2 separate regions of the Homo sapiens genome follow, and region 1 is linked to region 2. The links come from fine-mapping of genetic effects on gene expression. A gene starts in region 2. The other region holds a variant in brackets. All regions are shown on one strand. Distances are from middle to middle. Region 1 overlaps PNMA8A (PNMA family member 8A). Region 2 holds the start of CCDC8 (coiled-coil domain containing 8 subunit of 3M complex).

Region 1 (2,907 bases), 55 kb after region 2:
CACCATGTTAATACATTTACTTACTACCATACACCTGAACAGTCACGGCAGAACAAGAGCATGTGAATGACGAAAGGAAACTTGCTTTCAGGGTGTCAGATTATAGAACATGCACAGGAATTTCTTCCACTTCTAACCTCGCTCATCAGTCACATTTACAAGAAACTCAATTTTAAGCAAAGAGATGCCTGAAATAACTAAGACGTGTACAAAAACAAGTTAACCTATGAACACAAGGTAATATTCTGATAGTCTTCGATGTGACTTCCAACATATCTGAGTAGTCACTTTTCAGTTTTTTAAACACGTGAGAAAAATAGATTTGGATTACATCTTTGTGGACGGCTACGATACAGTTTGGAAACCATTATCTCAGGGACCCTGCTCTCTCCTCTACACATGCGCACGCAAACACACACACACACACACACAATGACACATGGTGGTCTGGTCTAATATAGTGTGTCTGAATTCAGAGGGCAGACATTAACAGCCAAGTTTTGTTTTTTTGAGAGAGAGTCTCACTCTGCTGCCCAGGCTGGAGTGCCGTGGCACAATCTCGGCTCATTGCAACCTCTGCCTCCTGGATTCAAGCAATTCATCTGCCTCAGCCTCCTGAGTAGCTGGGATTACAGGCGCGCGCCACCACGCCCAGCTAATTTTTGTAGAGATGGGGTTTCACCATGTTGGTCAAGCTGGTCTTAAACGCCTGACCTCGTGATCGACCTGCCTCAGCCTCCCAAAGTGCTGGGATTACAGGCGTGAGCCACCGTGCCCGGCCAACAGCCAAGTTTTAAAAGATTTTTTTCCCCTCTTACTATAATGTGAGTAGTGACCTTCTGCTGCAAAGATGGTGACAGTTTGGTGCAAAGATGGTGACAGTTGGGTAGATGGATGGAATTAGAGCTGGGGACCTAGGAATGCCTGCGTCCTTCCCTATAATCACCCCCCTTCCCCACAGGATTCCTGAGAGGGCTCATCCCAAATGGGAATCAAAGTGCCATTTTTACTAACAGACTCTAAAACTCAAAGACTTTGAGGTCTAGGCAGACATTCTTTTTCCCTAAAACTAACTCTTGGGACCTCCTGGCTAGATAACTGGAGGATGGAAGCTGGAGACTGAAGGAGCAATAAAACCAGGTTTGCAGCGAAGGTCCTGGCTTAACTTACCCCGCTGGTTACAC[G/A]AGAGGAAGGCGGGAGGAAGAATATGGCAGGGCCACCCAGCTCTTCCAAATGCCAGGGCCTGCAGAGGTCGCTGACCATTCCGAGGAGGGAGCAAGGCGTGGGGGAGAAAAGCTGAACATGGATGAGTGTAACAGTGACCCTGCTCATGCATAAAGGGGAATGAATGTTCTAGAATTTTCCCAATCCTCTTACCAACTCTCCTGCCTCCGAAGAGAAGGTGAGTAGAGAAGGCGGTGAAACGGCAGGCCTGGTAGAGAAAAGGGCATAGAGATCCACCTCCCTTCCCCAACTCCCTCCCACCCAAGACCTCACCTATCGTTTACCTCAGGGCCAGATCTCTATCAACAGGGGCCCTAAGAGAGTCCAAAGTCTTATTCAGTGACAAGAGAGAACTTGGTTGACTTGGTACTTCTTCCTTGTTCTTTCAACTCCTCAGTATGGGTGGTCCCCCAGATCAAACCTTTCTGGATTCTGCAAATAAATGAGAGAACAGATCAAGAAGGGAAGCAGAGAGGTGTCATTAGGAAATGCATTACTTCCAAGAAATTTCTGGGTCCCTGAACATTTCTATTCCCCAGCCAGGTCTCTAGAAAACTTCACCCTTAAAGCCACATACCCTGCAAACACCATAACTCCAAAGTATTAATATTTTTTTTGGGGGGAGGGGGGAACAGGGTTTCACTCTATCGCCCAGGCTGGAGTGCAGCAGTGTGATCTTGGCTCCCTGCAACCTCCACCTCCCAGGTTCAGGGAGGGTAAGAGCCCAGACCGCCCTTCCAGGAGCCCCTGAAGGCCGATGCTGGAGACATCTGGTGGGCAGATGTCTGGAGGCCAATCCCAGGCCTTGGCCTCCCCAGTAGCTGGGATTACAGGCACAAACCACCATGCCCAGCTAATTTTTGTATTTTTAGTAGAGATGGGGTTTCACCATGTTGGCCAGGCTGGTCTCGAACTCCTGACCTCAGGTGATCTGTCTGCCTTGGCCTCCCAAATCATTAAATTCTTTTTTTTTTTTTTGGAGACAAGAGTCTCACTCTCGTCACCCAGGCTGGAGGGCAGTGGCACAATCTAGGCTCACTGCAACCTCCACCTCCCGGGTTCAAGAGATTCTCCTGCCTCAGCCTCCCGAGTAGCTGGGATTACAGGTATGTGGCACCACACCCGGCTAATTTTTTGTATTTTTAGTAGAGACGGGGTTTCACCATGTTGGCCAGGCTGGTCTTGAACTCCTGACCTCAGGCGATCTGCCCACCTTGGCTTCCCAAAGTGCTGGGATTACAGGCATGAGCCACCAAGCCTGGGCCCAAACCATTAAATTCTCATCAAGGAAGATGGGTCAGATGGAGTGGCAAATGACCACAGTGACACTCATTGTGGGTTTCCTCTGCCACCTCCTGCCCACCAGATGTCTCCAGCATCGGCCTTCAGGGGCTCCTGGAAGGGCGGTCTGGGCTCTTACCCTCCTCAACTGGTGTGTCATCCACCTCCTGCCATGCACCAGGGTCCTCCTCATCACCCGCTTGACCCACCACCTCCTCGGGCTCCTCTGCCCCACCTGCCACTCCTGCTCCTCCTGCCTCATCCACTTGCTGGCACGAGCCCAGTCACTTCTGCTATCATTCTCACCATTGGTGGCACGCCGAGGAGAGCCTTCTGGCTTGGCCTTCGGACCCCTAGAGGTTGAGGCTGTTGCCTCGGCAGGCTGCTGGCCCCGAGGGGCCT
Region 2 (2,907 bases):
CCCCTGATCAGCCTCGATGTCTGCCCCCTGACCTGTGGGTGCTGTCTGCTCCTTCCTGCGGCGCCGAAAGGAGGCCCAGTTGATCTTGGGCCTCCATCGCCTAGGGGAAGCCTGGGGCACACAAACATCTCCCGCGTTTCCCAAGCGATCCCCCGGGCTGGTGCCCTCTGGCGCCGATGATACCCCTGCGCTCTCCACTGCGGTGGAGGCCAGCCGGGCCTCGCCCACCCCGGGGCCCGCCCTCGGCGCCCAACCCTTCACCCTCCGCTTCAGCTTCCCCCAGGACACCTGGCTGACATACTCCCGCCACCTGTCCGCTTTGGACAGCTGAGGCCCCAGGTTGTCCTCAAACATGGGCACTGGCAGGTTGACGCGGCGGCGGGCAGGCGGCGCGCTGGGCTGCTTCTCCTGTCGCCGGAGGAAGGCCTCGACCAGTTCCTCATCATCCTCACTCTCCAGGTCGCTTCCCAGGAACTTGCTGCCCAGGTAGCTGACGGGCATTTTGCGCACCTTCTTGCCCCGCCGCGGGCCCTGGCGGCTCTTGTCTCTGGAGGTCTCGAAGTCGCTGAACTCGCTGTCGCTGGCGTTGCTGCTGTCGTACGTGCCCACGACCAGCCGGGGCGGAGGAGTCACCATCTGCTGCACTCTCCTCCTCACTCGGGGCTCCTTGGGCTTTTTGGGGGGCTGGGGCGGGTGCGGGGTGCTCTTCTCCATGATGCGGGCCACGTCCTCCAGGGTGCGGCCCTCTTCTTCCAGGAACTGGGTCAGCCGCTCCCGAAATTCTGCTTCCTTGGTGGCGGGCTTAGAGATGACTCTCCAGACGCCCCCAGCCAGCCTGACCTCCCGGGGGATGAGCAAATAGTCGACGTCCTCCCCGATCTGCAGCATCCCCACCGTGGAGTCCTCCTCCTTGCGGAACACCTTGCCGATCTTCTTAAATGTCCCCACGGGCTTTAGGGCTTCCACGAGGACGTCCAAATCCACATCTTTGCAGACATCGGGGACGCTCCAAAGAATGAGGCAGTCGGGGGACGGCAGGAAGCCCCAGGGGAACCAGCCCCCCACGTGGCTTTTCTCGAGAGTCTTTAAGATCTCCAGGGTGATATCTGGGGTGAGGGGGCAATGAGCCCCAACAAACTACTGTAGCCCTTAGTCTTGAGGGAGGGACTGGATGGGGGGAGTTCCAGCAACGCTGACCGGAGAGTCTCACCTCCCTAGCCAGGGACGAGCCAAACGCCTCCAATCTCTTCGCCTGCAACAAGTACAGTCTTGACCAAGTCCGGCTCCCCCACCAAGGACTTGGGGGAATCAATTTCCAGGATGCCTACGTGAGCCGGGGGCGAGGTCAGTCCCAAGGCTCAAGGCCCACTCCAAGCTGGAAACGTGGTGTCCCAGCTCCAAGTTGGGGCGCGCGGGCTGCCAGCGACTCTTCCTGCCCCAGGCCCCAGGGACGCGGCTGGAACTTGGGACAGGACTTCGCAGACAAAGACGGTCCAGTCGAAGCTATTCAATATGGCCGAGGCGCTGGGAGGCCCCAGCCCGGGCCTCCAGTAGGGTCCCCCGCCCCCAGGCAGGCCGCCACCCAGCTCCAGGCTGACCTTGACGCGCCGCAGCCTGCCAGCCCGCGCGCTTAGAGCTCTGCACCGTGGAGCGCGCGGGCAGGAAGTTCCTCCTCGCCCTCCGCCAGAATGAGGCCCACCTTCCCCCGTCTCATCTTACACTCCCAGACTCTGGAAGACTGACAGGGGGGCTGTCCACTCCCTTCGGGGCGGCCTCCTTCCCCTCCCCCACAGGGGTGTGGCCGCGCCCCGGGCCTAGCTGGGCCCATTGCTTCCCAGCGAAGCGGCAGTGGCCCACGTCAGCACCTTTCCTGAAAGGCAGCGGTTCCCAAACCTGCCATCCGAAATGTGCAAGTTTCCAGCCAAGTCCGGGAGGTGGGTGTGCTAGTGGATTCTACTTTTTGAGAGCCACTGGCACCACAGATTAGCATTTTAAATTCACGCGACTATCGGTACCCGTACACCTATATGCGTGGGTAGAGAAATGGGTACCTGACTGCAACAGTCCCACTGTGGCGCTTGGCAGGTCAGGGCTCAATACATATTTTTGAGGGGATGAATAAACCCAAATGTTCATGGCCAGGCGCGGTGGCTCATGCCTGTAATGCCAGCACTTTGGGAGGCCCAGGTGGGTGGAACACTTGAGGCCAGGAGTTCGAGACCAGCCTGCCCAACATGGTGAAACCCTCGTCTCTACCCCGGGTGTGGTGGTGCGCGTGCGTAGTCCCAAGCTACGCGAGAGGCTGAGGCAGGAGAATGGCGTGAACCTGGGAGGTGGAGGTTGCAGAGATCGCGCCACTGCACTCCGGCCTGCGCAACAGAGGGAGACTGTCTCAAAAAAACAAAAGTGCAAAAAAACCCCTACAAATAAACAACAACAAAAAACCCTAAAAGTTCACGAGTAGAGACTGCCTCTATTTTATGGTAGTATCTTACAGTGAAATATTTTGCAACTTCGAAAAAAGAATGAGATGGCTAAGGATAGGCACGGTTTATGAGGCGCTTCCTATGTAGTAGGCACCATTCCCAGTGCTTTCTATGAATGAACTCAGGAAATCCTTGCTATAACAGGAGACTGGTAGCATGAGTACAATTCCCATTAGACAGCTGAGGAAACTGAGGCCCAAGGACATAAAACCACACTCTCAAGGTCACAGCCATGGGGAGTGGTTGAGTTTGGATTTGAATCCAGAATAGTCTGCCTTTTGTGTCGACCAAAGAGTCAAGATGGCCAGGCGCGGTGGCTCACGCCTGTAATCCCAGCCCTTTGGGAGGCTGAGGCGGGCAGATCACGAGGTCAGGAGATCAAGACAAGACCATCCTGGCTAACGCGGTGAAACCCTGTCTC

Evidence for each region. PIP is the estimated chance that this variant, and not a neighbour inherited with it, causes the effect. A credible set is the group of variants that fine-mapping cannot tell apart.
Region 1: its variant is the best candidate, but not a certain one, in a credible set for the expression of CCDC8 in aorta (GTEx, PIP 0.63).

What each region holds. Positions count from the first base shown.
Region 1 is chr19:46,466,922-46,469,828 of GRCh38, forward strand. It overlaps PNMA8A (PNMA family member 8A), which reads right to left. Exons shown (of 3, transcript NM_018215.4): 2 at 2,812-2,907; 3 at 1-1,656. The coding sequence ends at 1,640. Among named protein-coding and RNA genes, the nearest start is that of PNMA8A, 3.2 kb to the right of the region's middle. The variant G/A (reference allele first, on the strand shown) is at 1,185.
Region 2 is chr19:46,411,923-46,414,829 of GRCh38, forward strand. It overlaps CCDC8 (coiled-coil domain containing 8 subunit of 3M complex), which reads right to left and starts at 1,642. Exons shown (of 1, transcript NM_032040.5): 1 at 1-1,642. The coding sequence starts at 888. RefSeq lists enhancers at 16-849, 2,516-2,907.